Regions from separate parts of the Homo sapiens genome. Here region 1 is linked to region 2. A link means that fine-mapping ties the variant in region 2 to the expression of a gene that starts in the linked region. Tissue or cell type: whole blood. Region 2 holds a variant in brackets; the other region holds the start of a gene. All regions are shown on one strand. Distances are between the middles of the regions.

What was found. PIP is the estimated chance that this variant, and not a neighbour inherited with it, causes the effect.
Region 1: CCDC77 starts here. The variant in region 2 is fine-mapped to the expression of CCDC77 in whole blood (INTERVAL, PIP above 0.99).

Annotation. Positions count from the first base shown.
Region 1 is chr12:396,493-406,842 of GRCh38, reverse strand. It overlaps CCDC77 (coiled-coil domain containing 77), which reads right to left and starts at 5,199. Exons shown (of 13, transcript NM_032358.4): 1 at 5,159-5,199; 2 at 1,279-1,332. It overlaps LOC105369594 (a long non-coding RNA gene), which reads left to right and starts at 5,433. Exons shown (of 4, transcript XR_007063149.1): 1 at 5,433-5,525; 2 at 5,793-5,950. RefSeq lists enhancers at 4,389-4,941, 5,356-5,675.
Region 2 is chr12:422,519-433,663 of GRCh38, reverse strand. CCDC77 (coiled-coil domain containing 77) reads right to left here. Exons shown (of 13, transcript NM_032358.4): 6 at 4,799-4,895; 7 at 2,928-3,000; 8 at 1,710-1,798; 9 at 342-490. Among named protein-coding and RNA genes, the nearest start is that of CCDC77, 26 kb to the right of the region's middle. The variant TC/C (reference allele first, on the strand shown) is at 6,413.

The DNA.
Region 1 (10,350 bases), 26 kb after region 2:
CCCGAGTGGCTGGGAAGACAGGCACATACCACCAAGCCTGGCTAATTTTTGTATTTTTAGTAGAGACGGGGTTTCACCATGTTGGCCAGGCTGGTCTTGAACTCCTGACCTCAGGTGATCCACCTGCCTTGGCCTCCCAAAGTGCTGGGATTACAGGCATGAGTCACCACGCCTGGTCCCCCTGTTCCATTTTCAACCTCATCCCTTATAATGTATTCTCAACACATTAATATATATGTGTCAAAACACAAAACTCCTCTGCCCAAAAGCCTCCAATGACTTTTCATCTTACTCAGAGGGTCAAGGTCTTTAAAATTGCCGACAAGGTCCTGTATGATCTGGCCAACCTCATTACTTCTGTGACCTCACCTACTACTCTTATCCTTGTTCACTGCGGTAAAAACACCGGCCTCTTGGCTGTTCTTCAAACGTGCCAGGCACACTTCTACTTCAGAGTCCCCGTACCTACAGTTCTCTTTGCTATGATGTTCTTTCCCCATTTATCTATGTGGCTTACTCCCTCTCCTCCTTCAGGGCTAAAATGTCACTTTCTTGATGAAGTCTTCCCTGACCACTCTACCAACCTCATCCCTCTTCTCTGTTTTACTTTTCTCCATTAACACTTACAACCTTGGCTAGTTGAAGTGGCTCACGCCTGTAATCTCAGCACTTTGGGAGGCCAAGGCGGATAGACTGCTTGAGTCCAGGAGTTTGAGACCAGCCTGGGCAACATGGCAAAACCCTGTCTCTACAAAAAATTAGCCAGATGTGGTGGCACATGTCTGTAGTCCTAGTTAAACAGGAGGCCGAGGTAGGAGGATCGCCTGCACCGGGGGATCAAGGCTGCAGTGAGCCATGATCACGCCATTGCAGTCCAGCTGGGGTGACAGAGTGAGACCCTCTCTTAAAAAAAAAAAAAAAAAAAAGTTGAACACTTATAACCATCTAATATTTAATGTCTGTCTCTCCACACTGGAATATGCAAACTCACTAAAGGCAGCGGGTTTTTATCTATTATGTTCACTGCTGTATCCCTAGTAACATAAACAGTGCCTGGCTCATACTAAGTGTATATGTATATATATACAACTCTCAATATGAATTTGAAAGACTGTTAAACATCCTTTTCTTCTGCTGGCCAGTCTATTCAATCTAGATTTAAAAATCTGTTTCTGCTTCTCTCATCCCATTTGTTTTCTTCTACAGCCAACCCTTCAAATACGCCATCTTTCTTCTAATTCTCTCCTTTAAAAGACTACTCTCCTCCTCCAAACTCACCTCCTTCCAAAATACGTCTCCAAATTGGGTCAATGTGCCTCTTGTCCAAATAACCTAGAAAATAAAGTTATTGGATTGGCATGGAAGGATTATGGGTAACATTTTTTTAAAAAAGCAGCTTTATGGAATGTAATTTGTGTACACCATTAAACTCATTCAAAGTGTAAATTCAATGATTTTTAGTATATTCACAGATACGTGTACCTATCAGCACAGTCCATTCTAGAAGTTTCGTCACTTCAAGAAAAAAACCCTGTGTCCTTCAGCTATTATCCCTGTCTCCCAGTCCTAAGCAACCACTAACCTACTGTCTCTACAGATTTCCCTATTCTGGACTTTCCTATAAATGGAATCACATAGTATATGGTCTTTTGTGACTGTCTTGTTTCACTTAGCATAATGTTTTCAAGGTTCACCTATGTGGTACCATGTATCAGTACTTCATTCCTTTTTGTGGCTGAATAAAATTCCATTGTACGGATATGGGTGACAACTTAAAGTTAAATTTCACTGTTTCAAAGCCATTTAAGAGTAATTTGAAGCGGCTGGGCACAGTGGCTCCTGCCTGTAATCCCAGCACTTTGGGAGGCCGAGGAAGGCGGATCACCTGAGGTCAGGAATTCAAGACCAGCCTGACCAACCTGGAGAAACCCCATCTCTACTAAAAATACAAAGTTAGCTGGGCATGGTGGTGCATCCCTATAATCCCACCTACTCAGGAGACTGAGGCAGGAGAATTGCTTGAACCTGGGAGGCGGAGGTTGTGGTGAGCCAAGATCGCGCCATTACACTCCAGCCTGGGCAACAAGAGCGAAACTCCGTCTCAAAAAAAAAAAAAAAAAAGTAATTTGAAGCTTTGAAAGACCCTTCTAACAACCTGCAATCCCTCTTCTCCTTCATAGTGACTGTCCTCACTGTTGCACATGTCTACGAAAAGTTGTCTACACTCACCTCTCTGGCTGCAAGACGGGGCCTTGCTATGTTGCCCAGGCTGGCCTTGAACTCCCGGACTCAAACAATCCTCCTCCCTTGGCCTTCCAAAGTGCTGAGATTACAGGCATGAGCCACTGAGCCAGGCCTCGGGCTTCTACTATGACATCTAACCAAGCTCTTATTGGTCAGCAGACATCCAAATTAATAAATTCAATTGCTCTTTTCTGTTTCTATCCTCCTCCATCCAATAGTTACTCCTTCACTTGTATTCTTAATTAGATAGTGCCAACTACCTATTTATTTATTTATTTTTTGAGACAGAGTCTCACTCTGTTCAGCCCAGGCTGGAGTGCAGTGGCACGATCTTGGCTCACTGCAACCTCCACCTCCTGGGTTCAAGTGATTCTCCTGCCTCAGCCTCCCCAGTGGCTGGGATTACAGGCACCTGCCACTGTGGCTAATTTTTTTTGTATTTTTAGTAAAGACAGGGTTTCGCCATGTTGGCCAGGCTGGTCTCGAACTCCTGACCTCAGATGATCCACCCACCTCTGCCTGCCAGTGTTGGGATTACAGGCGTGAGCCACTGTGCCTGGTAGTGCCAACTACCCTTTAAAAATATATCACTTTGGGACCGGACCTTGGCATGGCCAGGCCATGGCAAGACCCTGTCTTTACCAAAATTTTAAAAATTAGCTGGGCACAGTGGCAATGTAGTCCCACCTGCTTGGTGCGAGGATCACTTCAGCCTGAGGGTTCAAGGCTGCAGCGAGCAGTGATCGTGCCACTGCACTCTAGCCTGGACAACAGCGCAAGACCCTGTCTCAAAAAACAATTAAAATAGGCTGGGCACAGTGGCTCATGCCTGTAATGCCAGCACTTTGGGAGGCCAAGGTGAATGGACTGCTGGAGGTCAGGAGTTTGAGACCAGCCTGGGCAACATGGTGAAACCCTGTCTCTACAAAAATTACAGAATTAGCTGGGAGTGGTGGCACGTGCCTGTAGTCCCAGCTATTCAGGAGGCTGAGGCAGAGGATTGCTTGAGCTTGGGAGGCAGAGGCTGCACTGAGCTGAGATTGCCCCACTGCTCTCCAGCCTAGGTGACAGAGTGAGACCTTACCTGGAAAAAATAATAATAAAAATAAATATTGCTTTGTAGTTGAGAATGTGGGCTCTGATATCAGACTTGGGTTTGAGTCAAAGCCCTGCCTCTTATTAGCTGTGTACCTCAGGCAAGTTATCCTCTCTAAATTTCAGTTACTTCTATGTCATAGGTTGGTGTACGGATATAAGGCCGAGGGACAGTGTTTGACACATATATAAGCACTCAGTAAATGTGGACTATTATTATTATTGACAATTTTACTCCCTTGGCTCAGAGGTTCTGTCTTCAAGTTTCTTTATCATTTCCTCTAACCATTTCTTTGGGAACATCATTATTCCTCCTGTTTTTATTATTAACTCTGTCATCTAAAACACTACATGGCATACAGTAAGTAACAATTACATGTTGAATAAATAAACGACATCTCTTTCAACCTCTTGATTTGAATTAACAAAAATGTAGTGGACATTTTCACCCATAGTCCCACTGGCACTTGAAACGTTTAACTTAAAAAAGAAATCACTCAAGTTAGGTATTTTTTTAGCATCTCAAAGCTAACATTTCCTAAACCTAACACATCATCTTTTTATCCAAACATGCCCCTTCTGACTTTCCTATTTTAGTTACTAATTCAGCGTTTCCAAGCAACCGGGAGTTGGCAACTTAAATTCATCATTTGATCACTCATTCTTCTGAACCTCCTGTCTAACCATATGAATATCTTGTATATTTTATCTCCACAATGACCATGTTAATTCAGAGTCTCAATACTTCTTACCCACACCATTACAACACCTTAACGGTTCTACCTACTCCTTGCGTCTCCTGGACCATTTTCTTTAATAAAATACATCAGTAGCACCTCATAGCCTAAAGCATTAAATCCAATTTGTTAGCCTAGAATTCATGGCTTTCTACATAAGGGCCAAACCTAACTTTCCTGCCTTATTTCTCTCTACTCTCCTAAATGTACCGTTTCCAGATAACTTTCCTGCCTCCATACCTTTGTTCATGAGCTTCCCTCTAGCTGGAACACAACTCCCTCCACAACCCTCATAATTTCACTTAACAAAATCTAGTCTGTACATGAAAACTCATCTTAAATACCACCTCCTTTTTCTCTTTCCTGAGTCTCCCCATCCAAAATGATTTAGCAAAAATGATCTAAGTGCAAAAGAACTGCCTTTGAAATTATCTACAAGTCAACATATTAGAGTGCTTTATTGCTATCGTTTCTCCCATGCTAGCGTGCGCTCCCTACAGACAGAAATCGCGTCTTACTCTTCATTGCCTCTTCCAAAGGAACAATGCCTTTGTTTATAGGTAAATTAACGGGTTTCAGCTAGGGTCTCTGCACCTATCTCCAATACCCTTGCTTAGATATATTCTTATAGCTTGTCTACTAACAATTAACATTTGTGTAGCACTTTGAATTTTTTTCTTTTAGCCACGTGACAAATCTGTACAATTTATTATCCCAACAACCGTTCAGTATTTTCACTATCCCTTATTTCACAAATGAGGAAACTGAGAGCTAGACCAGCGTGGGGTTAGAGTACACCGGAACGCATCTCCAGGGCGCCCGAATCCCGTACTCCTTTTCCCACTTCATCCCATTCTCGACCGCCTCACTGCTCCAGGTCCCAACGCTCCAGCACTCCTGAGGTCTCTCCCTTTGCACATTGGAGCTTTCCTCCTCCGGTCCCCAGCCCCTCCACGGACACCACATTCAGGCTCACGTCCTCTCCTCCGCACTGCTTCCGCAGTTACTTCTCCCTAACCAGATTTTCTTCCCAAGGCTTCTTACCTAACCCCTTCACCCCAAACCCGAAACTCTATACTCACGACACACTAAGACTCCGAGTCAGGGAACGCAACTGAAAAACAAAAGTCAAACCAAGGAGCGGCGCGGCGCCACTGAGCGTCCCTGAATCCGTGCAATCGCGAAGAAGTTTACATGGCCCTTTGGAATGCGCACCAATGGGAAGGGCCTTCACACAGAGGCCCGCCCCCATCTCGCCCCTCCTCGCGGTGCTCCCGACCGCGCAGAGGTCTCTGGGAAATGTAGTTTTCTTCTGCCTGGAGCTCTGCGCGGGGCGACGCAGCTGGGCTGCAACCCGCTCCTCCAGGGACGGGTAGTGTGACGTTTGGGGTCAGAACGCACCACTTTCGGGCACCCCCACTTAAGATTGCTCAACTGCTTTGAGCTCAGGTACTTCGCGTTCATGGTACATATATGTTGTAATTTCCAAGCTTGTCTCAAGAGATAAAGATTCTAAGAAAAGTTTCTTCTTCCATGACCGGGTGGCCTAGAGCCAGGATAGGACCTGAGGTTCAGTTTCTACGGTCAGGGGACTATGTATTAAAATTCTACTATTTGTTCCATAGCAAACACTGCTTCCTTTTCCGGAGAAATGTAAGACACTGGGCTTTAATGATAAAAGCAAGTTCAAAATCCATTATGGTCTTATCTTTCCAGAAAGCAAGGTGTAAAGGTGGGGGAAAAGCACTTTCGTCTCAGAATTACAGCTACTGGTATGGAAAAGCTGGGGCCCTTCGCTGGTGTGAGTCCTAAGGATGTCTAAATGGAACGTGCATCTGCTACAGGCTCGCACTTTCCTTTATTGCGCTTCCCAGGTAACTGTTTTTACAAATGTAAGGTTTGTGGCAACTCTGCATGGAACCAAATCTATCTGCGCCATTTTTCCTACAGCACAGGCTTACTATGTGTCTCTGCACCACATTTGGTAATTTTCACAATATTTCAAACTTTTTCATAATTATTGTATATGTTATGCTGATCTGTTATCCTTTATATTACTATTATAATTGTTTAGGGGCACCATGAACCATGCCCATATAAGATGGCAAACTTAATTCATAAATGTTGTGGATGTTTTAACTGCTCCACAGACCAGCAGTCTCCCTGCCTTTCTCCCTCTCTTCTTGCCTCCTTATTCCTGTGATACAACAATATTGAAATTAGACCAATTAACAATCCTACAGTGGGGGTTCAAGTGAAAGGAAGAGTCACACATCTCTTACTTTAAATAAAAAGCTGAAAATGATTAAGCTCAGTGAAAAAGGCATGTTGAAAGCCAAGACAGGATGAAAGCCAGTCTTCTTGCACCAAAGTTAGCCAAGTTGTGCATGCAAAGGAAAAGTTTTTGAAGGAAATTAAAAGTGCTACTCCAGTAAACACAAAAATGATAAGAAAGTGAAACAGACATTGCTGATATAGAGAAAGTTTGAGTGGTCTGGATAGAAGATCAAACCAGCCACAGCATTCCCTGAAGCCAAAGCCTAATCTGGAGCAAAGTCCTAACTCTTCAATAAAATGAAGGCTGAGACAGGTGAGGAAGCTGCAGAAGAAAAGGTGGAAGATAGCGGAGGCTGGTTCGTGAGGTTTAAGGAAAGGAGCTATTTCCGTTACTTAAAAGTGCAAGGTGGAAGCAGCAAGTGCTGATGTAGATGCCGCAGCAAGTTATTCAGAAGAGCTAACTAAGGTAATTGATTAAGGTGGCTAAACTAAACTACAGACTTTTGATATATATGAACCAGCCTTTTATTGGAAGGAGATGCCAAGTAGTACTTTTGTAGCTAGAGAGAAGTCAATACCTGGCTTCACAGCTTCTAAGAACAGACTGACTCTCATGTTAGGGGCTAATGCAACTGGTGACTTTAAGTTGAAGCCAGTGCCCATTTACATCCCTGAAATCCTAGAGCCCTTAAGAATTATGTTAGATATAGTCTGCCTGTGCTCTATAAATGGAACAACAAAACCTGGATGACAGCATATATGTTTATAGCATGGTTAACTGAGTATTTTAAGTTCACCGTTTTATGTATGTTTTATTTTAAGTCCTACTGCTCAGGAAAAAAAGGATTTCTTTCAAAATATTACTTCTCACTCACAATGCAACTGGTCACCCAAGAGCTCTGGTGGAGGTATGCAAACAGATGAATGTTGCTTTCATGCTTGCAAACACAACAGACATTCTGCAGCTCATGGATCAAGGAGTCATTTTGACTTTCAGGTCTTATTAAGAAATATATTTCAGGCCGGGCACGGTGGCTCACATCTGTAATCCCAGCACTTTGGGAGGCTGAGGTGGGCGGATCACCAGGTCAGGAGATCGAGACCAGCCTGGCCAACATGGAGAAACCCCCGTTTCTACTAGAAATACAAAATTAGCTGGCCATGATGGCGCATGCCTGTAATCCCAGCTACTCAGGAGGCTGAGGCAGGAGAATCACTTGAACCTGGGAGGCGGAGGTTTCAGTGAACTGAGATCGTGCCATTGCACTCCAGCTTGGGCAACAAGAGTGAAACTCCGCCTCAAAAAAAAAAAAATATTTCATAAGGCTATAGCTGCCAGACATAGTGATTTCTCTGGTGGATCTGGGCAAAGTAAATCGAAAACCTTCTGGAAAGGACTCACCACCATTCTAGATGTCCTTAAGATCATTTGTGACTTGGCTTGGTGAGATGTCTCACACCTGTAAACCCAGCACTTTGGAAGGCCAACGTGGGTGGATCACTTAAGCTCAGGAGTGCATGACAAGCCTGGGCAACATAGAAAACCTTGTCTCTATAAAAAAATACAAAAACTAGCCAGGAGTGGTGGCATGCACCTGGCTACTTGGGAGGCTGAGGTGGGAGGATTGCTTGAGCCTGGGAGACCAAGGTTGCAGTGAGCCGAGATTGTGCCACTGCAGTCCAGCCTGAGTGACAGAGCAAGACTGTGTCTCAAAAAAAAAAAAGTAAAAATATATTTAATAAAAAAATTTTAAAAAGAACATTTGTGACTTATGGGAGGAGGTCAATATCAATAATAACAGGAGTTTGGAAGAAGTTAATTCCAATCCTCTTGGATGTCTTTGAGGGGGTTCAAGACTTCATGGACGAAATAACTGCAGATGCTGTGGAAGTAGCAAGAGAACTAGAATTAGAAGTGGAGCCTTGGGAGGCTGAGGCAGGAGAATCGCTTGAACCCGGGAGGCAGAGGTTGCAGTGAGCCCAGATCGCGCCACTGCAGTCCAGCCTGGGCAACAGAGCAAGATTCTGTCTCAAAAAAAAAAAAAAGTGGAACCTGAAGATGTGACTGAATTGCTGCAATCTCATGATGAAACTATGGATGAAGAGTTGCTTCTTATGAATAAGTAAAGAAAGTGGTTTCTTTAGCTGGAATCTACTCCTGGTGAAGATGCTGTGAACATTGCCAAAATGACAACAAAGGGTTTAGAATATTCCATAAACTTAGTCGATAAAGCAGTTGCAGGGTTTGAGGATTGACTTCAACTTTGAAAGAAGTTCTACTATGGGTAAAATGCTATCAAACAGCATTGCATGCTACAGAGAAATCTTTCATGAAAGGAAGAATCAATCAATATCATGAAAGGAAGAATGAAAACAACTTCATTGTTGTCTTATTTTAAGAAATTGCCACAGCCACCCCAGCCTTTAGCAATCAGCACCATGATCAGTCAGCAGCCCCCAACATCAAGGCTAGACCCTCCATCAGTGAAAATATTATGACTTGGCTTAGACGATCATTAGCATTTTTAGAATAAAGTATTTTAAGGCCAGTCGCGGTGGCTCACGCCTGTAATCCCAGCACTGCAGGAGGCTGAGACGGGCGGATCACGAGGTCAGGAGATGGAGACCATCCTGGCTAAGACAGTGAAACCCCATCTCTACTAAAAATACAAAAAATTAGCCGGGCGTGGTGGCGGGCGCCTGTAGTCCCAGCTGCTCGGGAGGCTGAGGCAGGAGAATCACTTGAACCCAGGAGGCAGAGGCTGCAGTGAGCTGAGATCGCGCCACTGCACTCCAGCCTGGGTGACAGAGCAAGACTCTGTCTCAAAAAAAAAAAGCATTTTAAATTAAGGCATGTAAATTTTTTTAAAGAAATAATGCAAACTAGAAATAATGCACTAGACTACAGTATCGTGTAAACACATAGCTTTTTTTATGTACCAGGAAACCGAAAATTTCGAGCAATTTGCTTTATGGTGATATTCACTTTATTATGGTGGTCTGGAACTGAACCTGCAATATCTCCAAGTTATGCCTGTACTCCCAAACCTGCTTTTTTCTCCCTTGTGATTTTCTCTGTTAATTACATTAATATCTTCCCAAACATCTCGGCTCGGTATCTTTTGTCTATTTCCTTTCTTTTAGCCCCTGCAATTTTTAAAAAATCAAGTCATGGTGAGCCTGTCTTCATATATATCTTCCTATTTATTTCCACTATGTGTCTTATTACCTTTCACTTGGTCTATTACCATAGGCTTCTAACTGGGTGTTCTTGCCTCCAATCCATTCTATAAAAGGTGATTTTTGTCCAGGCTGGTCTTGAACTCCTGACCTCGTGATCCACCCGCCTCAGCCTCCCAAAGTGGTGGGATTACAGGCATGAGCCCCATCTCTAGTAAAAATACAAAAATTAGCTGGGTGTGGTTACATGTGGCACATGCCTGTAATCCCAGCTACTCAGGAGGCTGAGGCAGGCGAATTGCTTGAACTCAGGAAGTGGAGGTTGCAGTGAGCTGAGATCACGCTGTTGCACTCCAGCCTGGGTGACAGAGCGAGACTCTGTCTCCAAAAAATTCAATTCCGGGTCTGTCACACTCCTGCTTATAAACTTTGATGACTCCCCACAGACTAGAGAATGAAGTTCAGACAGTAGTATGGCATTCAAAGACTGCAGCTATCTGACCCCATTTGTCTCTATTAGAAGAAATTGATGTGGTCATCTCCTGAACACAGGACGCACTTTCCAGCTTCAGTTCACACTCTTCCTTTTATCTGGATTGGCCCTTTCAGTGCATCTTCACTCAAAATTCTTACGAGAGCCAACTCAAATACTACCACTTTTGTAAAATCTTGACTTATCTCCCTAATTGGAAATACAGTTGTCCCTTGCTCAGTATCTGCTAGGGATTGGTGCCAGGCAATTCCTGGGTACCAAAAGGCATAGATGCTCAAGTCCCTTACATAAATGGCATATTATTTGCATATGACCTATGCACAC
Region 2 (11,145 bases):
TTTTTTTTTTTTGAGACAGGGTCTCACTCTGTCACCCAGGCAGGAGCGATTACAGGCGTGAGCCACTGCACCCGGCCTAAGAACACTTCTTAGCCACCAGAAGCAAGCTAAAACACCAAAATGGATTAAAAGGAGCACGTGAAATACTCATCAGCTCTTCAACAGCACGCCTGGAAAAGCGAGGTACTCACCTACGTAGAGGCGGGGGTTTCTGAGGAAGACAGTCTTTTCAAGGCTCCCTTTAGTTCTATGACCCGCTGTTGTTCAAGTACAAAATGTTAACTTTTAAGTCACTCAGAAAAATACAATACCCGTTAGGTACAGCTTTCTTAGACACTCACTTTTTGGTTAGCTCTTTGATTTTGTTCTGATTTCTCTGGTGCTGAACTTGTATTTCCTCAAGGTGAATCCGTCTGTCCTCGATGAGCCCTTCAATTTGTTCTCGAGAAAGTTTGGTCTGCTCTCCCAGCTGAGCCTGCAGTGCTTCCACCTAGACAGGCCAAAAAGGGGTGAGGAATCCAGCCCTACTTCCACTTACTTCATACCTCTAGGAAAAGTGAGCCTTTCTCCAGAAAAATTAAAAAACAAACACAAACAAAAACATCTCAATCCTAATCCTCTTGTTCATTTCAAGACAAGGTCTTGCTCTGTCCCCCAGGCTGGAGTGCAGTGGGCGTGATCATAGCTCACTGCAGCCTCAACCCCCTGGGCTCAAGCAGTCCTCCCTGCCTCAGCCTCCAGGACTACAGGTGTGTACCACCACACCCAGCTAATTTCATTTTTAATTTTTGTAGAGATGGGGTCTCACTATGTTGTCCAGGCTGGTCTCGAACTTTTGGGCTCCAGCAATCAACTCGCCTTGGCCTCCCAAAATGCTGGGATTACAGGCATTACTATGCCCAGCCCAGTTCCTCTTAATGTCTTATAAATGGGGTTAGGCTATACAAGAGTAGATTCTTTGTCCAAACGAAACCCAGCATCTACAACACACAAACAAAGCTACAAAATCCAGTTTTCTCACCCTGTGATTTTTGCCTTTTCACTATCTCCCTTGACTGTCTCCCTTTAAGACACCCTTCCTGCACAGAAGCAAAATGACTCTTTTCTTAGTTTTTGGTTTCAAAAAGCAGAGCAAAATGAATATAATGTAATTTCCTTCTCTGTGTCTGGTTGTCATGACTCCACATGGAGATACTGGCCAAAGGTAGAAACTGTCATTTAAATCAACAGAGATTTAACACAGTAAGGACAGAAACTTTAGTGCAACTAGATGAAAAATCATGGTTCCAAATGACACATAACCAGGAGGTAAGAGAACAGTTCATTACTTTCCTAGACTTTGGAACCTAAGCACTAAATAAATGAATATACCATCAAATGTTGATCTATCAGCATAGACAAGCTTCCCTCTGCAATCTCTGCATATCCCTAGGCCAGTGAATTCTTACCTTGTAATGGTTTTGGTGGATGGGGCTTAGTATATTGAATTGAAGGTTCAGAGTAGCACCTTAAGAATGTTCAAATAGAAAAGGATGGTTTCAAAATATAAGCTCTTAGAAATTAGGAACAATCTCAATTTTCTTAACCACATGATGCTTAGATGTAACCTGTGTGCAAGGAGATACTTATCACATGACACTGAGGGTATGTGACATAGAGCTGCACCTGTGGATAAAAGCCATCTTGGTCTGCCAAAATACATTCTTTACCTGTAGGATGAGTGTCTGTATGTCTCTTTGGTAATGCTCAGAACTTTCTTTTCTCTCTCTCGATGGTCTTCTTTTGCTTATTTTAGGATCTAAAATAGAAAACAAAATCCATCAAGAAGATTTTACTCAGCTTTTCTGTGTGCTATTGAAATATCAGTATTTCCCACGCAGAGGAGTTCAGATTCATTTACCTGTAAGGGTAATGAAGGGGTTCTCACTAATGAAGGGATTCGGAAGACAAAGGGAAACATCATAATCATAGTGCTTAACTTTTCAAATAGGAATCTCTATAAGGGAACTCTGCAGGATGTCACCTAAATAATCATATTCATCTTCTGGCAGAATCAACCACTAAATTTTCCTTAGAATCAACCACTAAAATAGTTGTGTCTATTTTCTTAGTAAATCCTATTCGATCAGAATAAGGCCAGGTGTTGTGGCTCATGCCTGTAATCTCAGTGCTTTGGGAGGCCAAAGCAGGACAATCACTTGAAGCCAGGAGTTCAAAACCAGCCTGAGTGACATAGTGAGAACCCCTTCCTACACAAAGTAAAATACAATACAATAAATTAGCCAGGTGTGGTGGCATATGCCTGTCGTCCTAGCTACTCAGGAGGTTGAGGTAGGAGAATCGCTTGAATCTGGGAGGCAGAGGCAGCAATGAGCCAAGATCGCGCCATTGCACTCCAGCCTGGGCAACAGGAGCAAAACTCTATCTCAAAAGAAAAAAAAAAAAAAAAAAGAACTGAGCAAAATTTAATTCCTTGGATGATTCAAGAAGCTCATTAAGACATTAGACCACCAAAGGCATCATTATGAACATCAATTATCACTGTACAGTAGGAAAACATTTCCAATTGTGTGTTCTGTTTTTTTTTTTTTTTTTTTGGAGATAGTCTTGCTCTGTCACGCAATGGCACGATCTCAGCTCACTGCAACCTCCGCCTCCCAGGTTCAAGAAATCCTCCTGCCTCAGCCTCCCAAATAGCTAGGATTACAGGCGCCTGCCACCACACCCGGCTAGTTTTTTGTATTTTATGTAGAGATGGGGTTTTGCCATGTTGGCCAGGCTGGTCTCGAACTCCTGACCTCAGGTGATCCACCAACCTCAGCCTCCCAAAGTGCTGGGATTACAGGCGTGAGCCACCGCGCCCAGCCTGCACTGTGATTTTCAATTCTGCATTGATGAGAATTTCTAATAGGTTATATGGTTGTTACCTGCTTTGAAAGCTGAAGATTCACTCTGCTCACATTCACCTACAGCCTGGATAGTCTTTTGGAGAATGGTGACCTGAAGAAGCAAAAACTGGTATTGAAGTAGCCTTCCTATAAACGTAATATTTTACTTTTCAGCCTTAGTTCTGCAGATTGAACACTAGAAGTTAAATTAGTCAAAACTGATATGATCATATAAGGATGTCATGCACATGACAGACCACACAGGCAAAGTAGCAAACTGGATAAAACCCTGTGTTGACAATATAAACTTAAAAAGGTAGGCCAGGTGTGGTGGCATGTGCCTGTGGTCCCCGCTACTCAGGAGGCTAAGGTGGGAGGATTGCTTAAGCTTAGGAGCTTAAGGCTGCAGTGAGTTATGATCACTCCACTGCACTCCAACCTGGGCAACAAAATGAGACTTTGTTTCTAAAAAAATAAAAATAAGGCCAGGTGCGGTGGCTCATGCCTATAATCTCAGCACTTTGGGAGGCCAAGGTGGGCGGATCACCTGAGGTCGGGAGTTCAAGACCAGCCTAACCAACATGGAGAAACCCCATCTCTATAAAAAATACAAAATTAGCCAGGCGTGGTGGCACATGCCTGTAATCCCAGCTACTCAGGAGGCTGAGGCAGGAGAATCACTTGAACCTGGGAGGCGGAGGTTGTGGTGAGCCGAGATTGCACCATTACACTCCAGCCTGGTGTACAAGAGCGAAACTCCATCTTGAAAAATAAATAAATAAATATAAATAAATAAACAAAATTGCAGGGCTATTTAGTAATATATGATTAAAAACAAAAACAAAAACAGCTTGGGGCACAGTGGTGCACCCCTGTAGTTCCAGCTACTTGGAAGGCTGGCTACAGTGGAAGGATGGTGCTTAAGCCCAGAAGTGTGAGTCCAGCCTAGGCAACATACCAAGACCTCAGCTCTAAAATTTTTTTAAAATTTTTATTGTTTTTTTAAAAGCAGCTCTTTGGTGGGTGTGGTGGCTCATGCCTGTAATCCCAGCACTTTGACAGGCCAAGGTGGGCGGACTGCTTGAGCTCAGGAGTTCGAGACCAGCCTGGGCAACATGGTGAAACCCCATCTCTGCAAAAAATACAAAAATTAGCTGGGCGTGGTGGTGTACACCTGTAGTCCCAGCTGCTTGGGAGGCTGAGGTGGGAGGAGTGCTTGAGCCCCAGAGCGGAGGTTGCAGTGAGCCGAGATTGCGCATTGCACTCCAACCTATGTAACAGAATGAGACTTTGTCTCAAAAAAAAAAAAAAAGTAGCTCTTGGCCAAGGACCTTTAGAAAACAGAAGTATACGTATACAGATATGTATAAAAATGCTCAGGAACTGTTTATAGAAGTGAAAAAATAGAAATAGTATACACAGACACATAACTATTTCTATAGGAATGAAGAAAGAGATGGAAGTATATACACCAAACTATTACTAATGGATTATCTCTGGGGTATAGGATTATGAGAACCTGCCACTTTTATATGATAGATTACTATACTCTGTGTTTGTTTTTAATAAAGACCATGGATTACATTTGTAATCAGTATAAACAAAGATTTAAAAAGAAACTTAAGCATCAAAACTTGCTCCCACACATAGTCTGCTCCTGCTTTCCTCTCTGTCTCAGCTAAAACAGCCACCCCTCTGTGCTTCAGGTTTCTAAACATTGAAATGGGGTAAATAATGCTACTTCCCAAGGTTTTCGAAGAAAAATGCTTTAAAAACTCAGGCAAACAAGGCACTGTGATGGCTAATTCTCCATCTGCCTTCTCCAGCGGATACTAAAGTTCTTCTGATGATGGGCCTTAGCCTGTGACTTGTAAAGCCACACTCACCATGCTACACCAAAGATTACTTACTTTGTGAGGAGGCTCCTTACAAAAATAGGTCACTTCTCCAGCATCTGTTCCCACAAGAGCCAAGAGATTCTGAATCTTTTTCTTGTCTTCTAGCTCCCTGCAATTCTCATGGAAAGCAAGCACATATTATTAAATGTCCCAAGTAAGTAACCTTTTTCTGTTTAAAGGATCTCCCTTCTATTTTTTTTTTAAAACAATTGTAACCCCAAATTAAAACAGTAACCTCAAATTAAAATTGAATAGTTTGTATCTAGACTTCAGCTCTACTTCGTAAAACATCAGGTATTTCCATTCAGAGAAAAGGGGCCAGGGCACTTCTTAGCTAATTCTTTTTTTTTTTTTTTTTTTTTTTTTTGAGACAGAGTCTCGCTCTGTTGTCCAGGCTGGAGTGCAATGGTGCGGTCTTGGCTCACTGCAACCTCCGCCTGCCGGGTTCACGCCATTCTCCTGCCTCAGCCTCCCGAGCACCTGGGACTACAGGCGCCCGCCACTATGCCCGGCTAATTTTTGTATTTTTAGTAGAGACAGGGTTTCACTGTGTTAGCCAGGAAGGTCCTGATCTCCTGACCTCGTGATCTGCCTGCCTCGGCCTCCCAAAGTGCTGGGATTACAGGCGGGAGCCACTGCGCCCGGCCACTTCTTAGCTAATTCTAAAAGGGAATGGTAGTGGCTGCTGAGGGTTACTGCTCAGATCTTGCTCTTCGGGGCTGATGGGCTCATTCTGCCAACTGCCAGGAATGCTGCCTGCTGATAGCTTGTAGTTGAATCCCCAGACAAGGGAACTGCCTCACCCAAGTTTCTGCCTCTCATTCCTCAGGGACAGCCCATATCCAGTGCCTGGTCAATGAGGAAACACAAAAATCCAATCCCCTTGCTCAGTTCAGGATATCTCTGAAGAGCCATCCCAGCTTCAGAGATCCCTATCGTGTTGGACGAGGCCTGCTGCAACTGAATCCCAGTTTAAGTTCCCTCACTTCCCAATAAAATTCCTGCAAGCAAATCTCCACTGTACAGTCTGTTTCCCAGAGAACTCAACCTAAGATAGCTTAGGTCTGGACTGGGCCAAGGAAGCAAACGCTAAAAAGGGATTTCGGGCCGGGTGTGGTGTTTCATGCCTGTAATCCCGGCACTTTGGGCTGAGGCAGGCGGATCACCTGAGGTCAGGAGTTCGAGACCAGCCTGGCCAACATGGTGAAACCTTGGTCTCTACTAAAAATGCAAAATTTATCTGGGCGTGGTGGCGTGCACCTGTAATCCCAGCTACTCAGGAGGCTGAAGCACAAGAATCACTTGAACCCGGGAGGTGGAGTTTGCAGTGAGCCAAGATTGCACCACCGCACTCTGGCCTGGGCGACAGAGCAAGACTCTGTCTCAAAAAAAAAAAAAAAAATTAATTAATTAAAAAAAACAACATAAAAAGGGATTTCAGAGCGACTTGATATGGAGATGGTTTACAGAACGTGGCGTTTCTAGCAGCAAGGTAGATGGGTAGTCAACAGAGTATAGCTCAAACAATAAAAGATAAGTCAAAGATGGAAAAGAGGCTGAGGGCTGCACCCCAAACAAAATCACAATCTCTGACTCGTTTTTCAGGCCCGAGTCCGTTTTTTTTTT[TC/C]TTTCCGAGGCAGAGTCTCGCTCTGTCGCCCAGGCTGGAGTGCAATGGCATGATCTCAGCTCACCGCAACCTCCGCCTCCTGGGTTCAAGCAATTCTCCTGCTTCAGCCTCCCGAGTAGCTGGGACTACAGGCGCATGCCACAATGCCCAGCTAATTTTTGTATTTTTAGTAGAGATGGGGTTTCACCATGTTGGCCAGGCTGGTCTTGAACTCCTGACCTCGTGATCTGCCCGCCTCAGCCACCCCAAAGTGCTGGGATTACCAGCCCCAAGTCAGTTTTAAGTCCTAGAGACAATTACCTAAAGAAGAGGCTGGAACTCCTAGAAGGTAAGACCCTGCGACACCACAGAGTAGATATTCATGGTAATGATTCCCCACATCCTCCAAAGGGTCTATAGCCATTTATTCAAGTAACTGTATACTGGGGAAGAGGAAAGACCTGGGCATTTTAAGGACTGCTGGATACAGGGTCTAAGCTGACACCGACACCAGATAACGTGAAGCATCATCATGGCACTGGGGCACGTGGGGACCATGGAATAAATGGAATTGTGGCCCACGTCCAACTCACAGCAGGTCTACTGGATCCACCAAATCAATGGGCATTTCTTCAGTTCCCAAATGCTTAAAATGGACATACTAGGTGGGGGACAGTACCTCCAAATTAGCTTCTTGGCTTCTGGGGCAAGCTAAGTGAAAGCCTCAGAAACTGCCCCTCCCTACCCAGTCAAGACGATCAATAAAGACCTAAAGAATGCAGAGGTGGAGGTCCTTATGAAAGCCTCATTTCATTCCTCAGTATGACCCATACAAAACCAGATGGATTCTGGAAGATAAGAGTAGACTACTACCCAGTAGGTCCCAATTTCAGTCATTGTGCCAGATGTAGCACCTTTGCTAGAAGAGAATTACTTAGTCTCAGGCACATGGTAAGTGGCCACTAATTAGGCAAATGGATTCTTTCCTACCCCTCAAAAGACCAGAGGCAGTTCACATCATGTGACATGGACAGCAGTGTGCTTTTATAGTCTTTCCCAGGGCCATGTTAACGCTTTTACTTTCTGTCAATACAGTATAAAAGAATCTGGGCTGGGCGCGGTAGCTCACACCTGTAATCCCAGCACTTTGGGAGGCCGAGGCGGGTGGACCACGAGGTCGGGAGTTCGAGACCAGCCTGTCCAAAATGGTGAAACCCCATCTCTACTAAAAAGTACAAAAATTAGCTGGGCGTGATAGCGTGCGCTGTAGTCCCAGCTACTCGGGAGGCTGAGGCAGGAGAATCACTTCAATCTGGGAGGCGGAGGTTGCAGTGAGCTGCGATCACGCCACTGCACTCCAGCCTGGGTGACAGACTGAGACGCCATCTCAAAAACAAACAAACAAACAAACAAAAACAAAAAAAAGAATCTGGATCTGGCTACTCCACAGATGGCCAGTAGCTCACTACTGATGATATCGCGTTAAATCAGACGGCATGAACAAGAAACAGCAAGTGCACGTGGTAAGATACGTGTGCTCGGGAGGGTTGCAGATGAACCTTACGAAGCACATGAGTGAAGTTTTTAAGGCTGTGATCCAGGTATCCCAGGATATTCCCTCCGATGTAAAGATCAAATTATTTCACCTGGTACATGCTACCACCAAGAAGGAAGCACAATGCCCGAAAGGAGACTTCAGGTTCTGGAGACAACATACTCCGCATTTTGGAATACTGCTCTGACCTATGTATCAACTGACATGGAAGGCGAGCTTTCGGTGTGGCCCAGAGTTGAAAGGATGCTCTGCTGCTTGGGACATCATTTGGCGGATCCTATGGTGTCTGTGGTGGCACAAGGTACCAGGTGGAGTTTACGGCAAGCACCACGACAAGAATCCTAACAGACCCTCTGAGAATCTGGAGCGAGACCATGCTGTCTACAGCTGAGAATGACAACATTTGAAAACCAGCTTCTGCCATGCTAGTAGATCCTGCTAAAAACGGAGCACTTGACCGTGGGACACCAAAAACCCACGTGGCGAGGCTGGGTGCGGTGGCTCACGCTTGACATCCCAGCACTTTGGGAGGCTGAGGAGGGCAGATTGCTTGAGCTCAGGACTTCGAGATCAGCCTGGGCAATATGGAAAAACCCTGTCTCTACAAAAAATACAAAAATTAGTCAGGTGTGTTGGCTCGTGCCTGTAGTCCCAGCTACTTGGAAGGATGAGGCAGGAGGATCACCTGAGCCTGGGAGGTGGAGGTTGCAGTGAGCCGAGATCGTGCCACTACATTCCAGCCTGGGTGACAGAGGGAGACCCTGTCTCAAAATAAAAATTAAAAAAAAAAAAAAAAAGAAAGAAACCATGTGGCTAAGTCTTCTCAACAAATGATGTTGAGAAAACTGGACATCCACATGCAAAATAATGAAGTTGGAACCTTACCTAATGCTGTATACAAAAATTAACTAAAAATGGATCAAAGACCTAGACGTAAGAGCTAAAATAATAAAACTTTCAGAAGAAAACATAGGAGAAAAGTTTCCTGACAATGAATCTGGCAATGATTTCTTGAATGTGATACCAAAAGCAGAAGCAACAAAATAAAAAAATACATAAATTGAACTTCATAAAAATTAAAAACTCCTGGCTCGGCATAGTGGTTCATTCCTGTAATCCTAGCACTTTGGGAGGCTGAAGCAGGAGGATCACTTGAGGTCAGAAGTTCAAGACCAGCCTAAGGAATATAGTGAGATCTGCCCTGTTTCTACAAAAAAATGAAAAAAAGAAAATAAATTAGCCAGGCATAGTGGTGCATGCCTATAATCCCAGCTACTCCAGAGGCTAAGGCAGGAGGATCACCCTGGCCGACAGAGTGATACCCTGCCCCTAAAAAAAAAAAAAAGAGGAGAAAATAAAAAGGCAATCTATGGAACAGGAGAAAATATTTGCATGCATCTGTATATCTAACAAAGGTTTAATATCCAGAATATATAATGAACTTCTATAGCCAGGCACGGTGGCTCACATCTATAATCCCAGCACTTTGGGAGGGTGAGGTGAGGATCACTTGAGCTCAGGAGTTTGAGACCAGCCTGGGCAACATCGCGAAACTCTGACTCTACCAAAAATACAAAAATTAGCCAGGTGTAGTGGCACATGCCTGTAGTCCCAGCTACTCAGGAGGCTGACATGGGAGGACAGCTTGAGCCCAGCAGACAAAGGTTGCAGTGAGCCGTGATCACGCCACTGCCTGGGCGACAGAGCAAGACCCTGTCTCAACAACAAAAAAGAACTTCAACTCAACAACAAAAACAACCCAATTATTAAAATGGGCAAAATATTTGAATAGACATTTCTCCAAAGAAGATATATAAATGGCACAAGAAAGATGCTCAACATTTAAAAATGCAAATCAAAACCACAATGAGACTCCCTCACACCCATTAAGACGGTTACTATCAAATAAACAGAAAATAAGGCTGGGCACAGTGGCTCACGCCTGTAATCCTAACACTTCGGGAAGCCAAGGTGGGCAAATCGCTTGAGCCCAGGAGTGTGAGACCAGCCTGGGCAAAACGGGGAAACCCCATCTCTTCAAAAGATACAAAAATTAGCCAAGCACAGTGGTGCGCACCCATGGTCCCAACTAACTGGGAGGCTGAGGTTGGGGGGATCATCTGAGCCTGGGAGGTTGAGGCTGCAGTGAGCTGTGATCATGCCGCTGCACTCCAGCCTGGGTGACTGAGCAAGACCCTGTCTCAAAAAAAAAAAAAAAAAAACAAAACAAAAAAAAACACAAAAAACACAAAAAACACCCAGAAAATAACAAGTGTTGGCCAGGCATGGTGGCTCATGCCTGTAATCCCAGCACTTTGGGAGGCTGAGGCAGGAGGATTGCTTGAGCTCAGGAGTTTGAGACCAGCCTGGGAAACATGGTGAAACCTTGTCTCCACAAAAAAAAAAAATATATATATATATAAAAATTAGCTGGGCATGGCAGCACATGCATGTAGTCACAGCTACTTGGAGGCTGAAGTGCAAGGATCACCTGAGCCTAGGAGGTAGGTAAAGGCTGCAGTGAGGCAAGATCATGCCACTGCACTCCAGCCTGGGTGACAGAGTGAGACCCTGTCTCAAAAAAAAAAAAAAAAAAAAAAAAGGCTTAAAAGAAAAAAAAAAGAAAATAACAGGTATTGTCAAGGATGTGGAGAAACTGAAACCCTTGTGCACTGCTGGTGGGAATATAAAATGGTATAAACACTATGGAAAATAGTATGGCAGTTACTCAAAAAAATAAAAACAGAATTACAATGTGATCTACTGCTGGGTATATACACAAAAGAATTAAAAGTAAGGTCTCAGCCGGGCACAGTAGCACACACCTGTAATCCCAGCACTCTGGGAGGCTGAGGCAGACAGATCACTTGAGCTTGGAAGTTGGAGACCAGCCTGGGCCACATGGCAGAACCCTGTCTCTACAGAAATTACAAAAAAAATTAGCCAGACATGTTGGCACACACCTGTAGTCCCAGTTACTCAAGAGGCTGAGGTGGGTGGACAGCTTCAGTTTGGAAGGCGGAGGTTACAGTGAGCTGAGCTCCACTGGTGGATGAATGGATAAACACAATGTGGTACACACATATAATGGAATATTGTTCAGTCTTAAAAAGGAAGAAAATTCTGACACATGCTACAACATGGATGAACCTTGAAGACATTACGCTGAGTGAAATAAGCATAACAAATACTGTATGA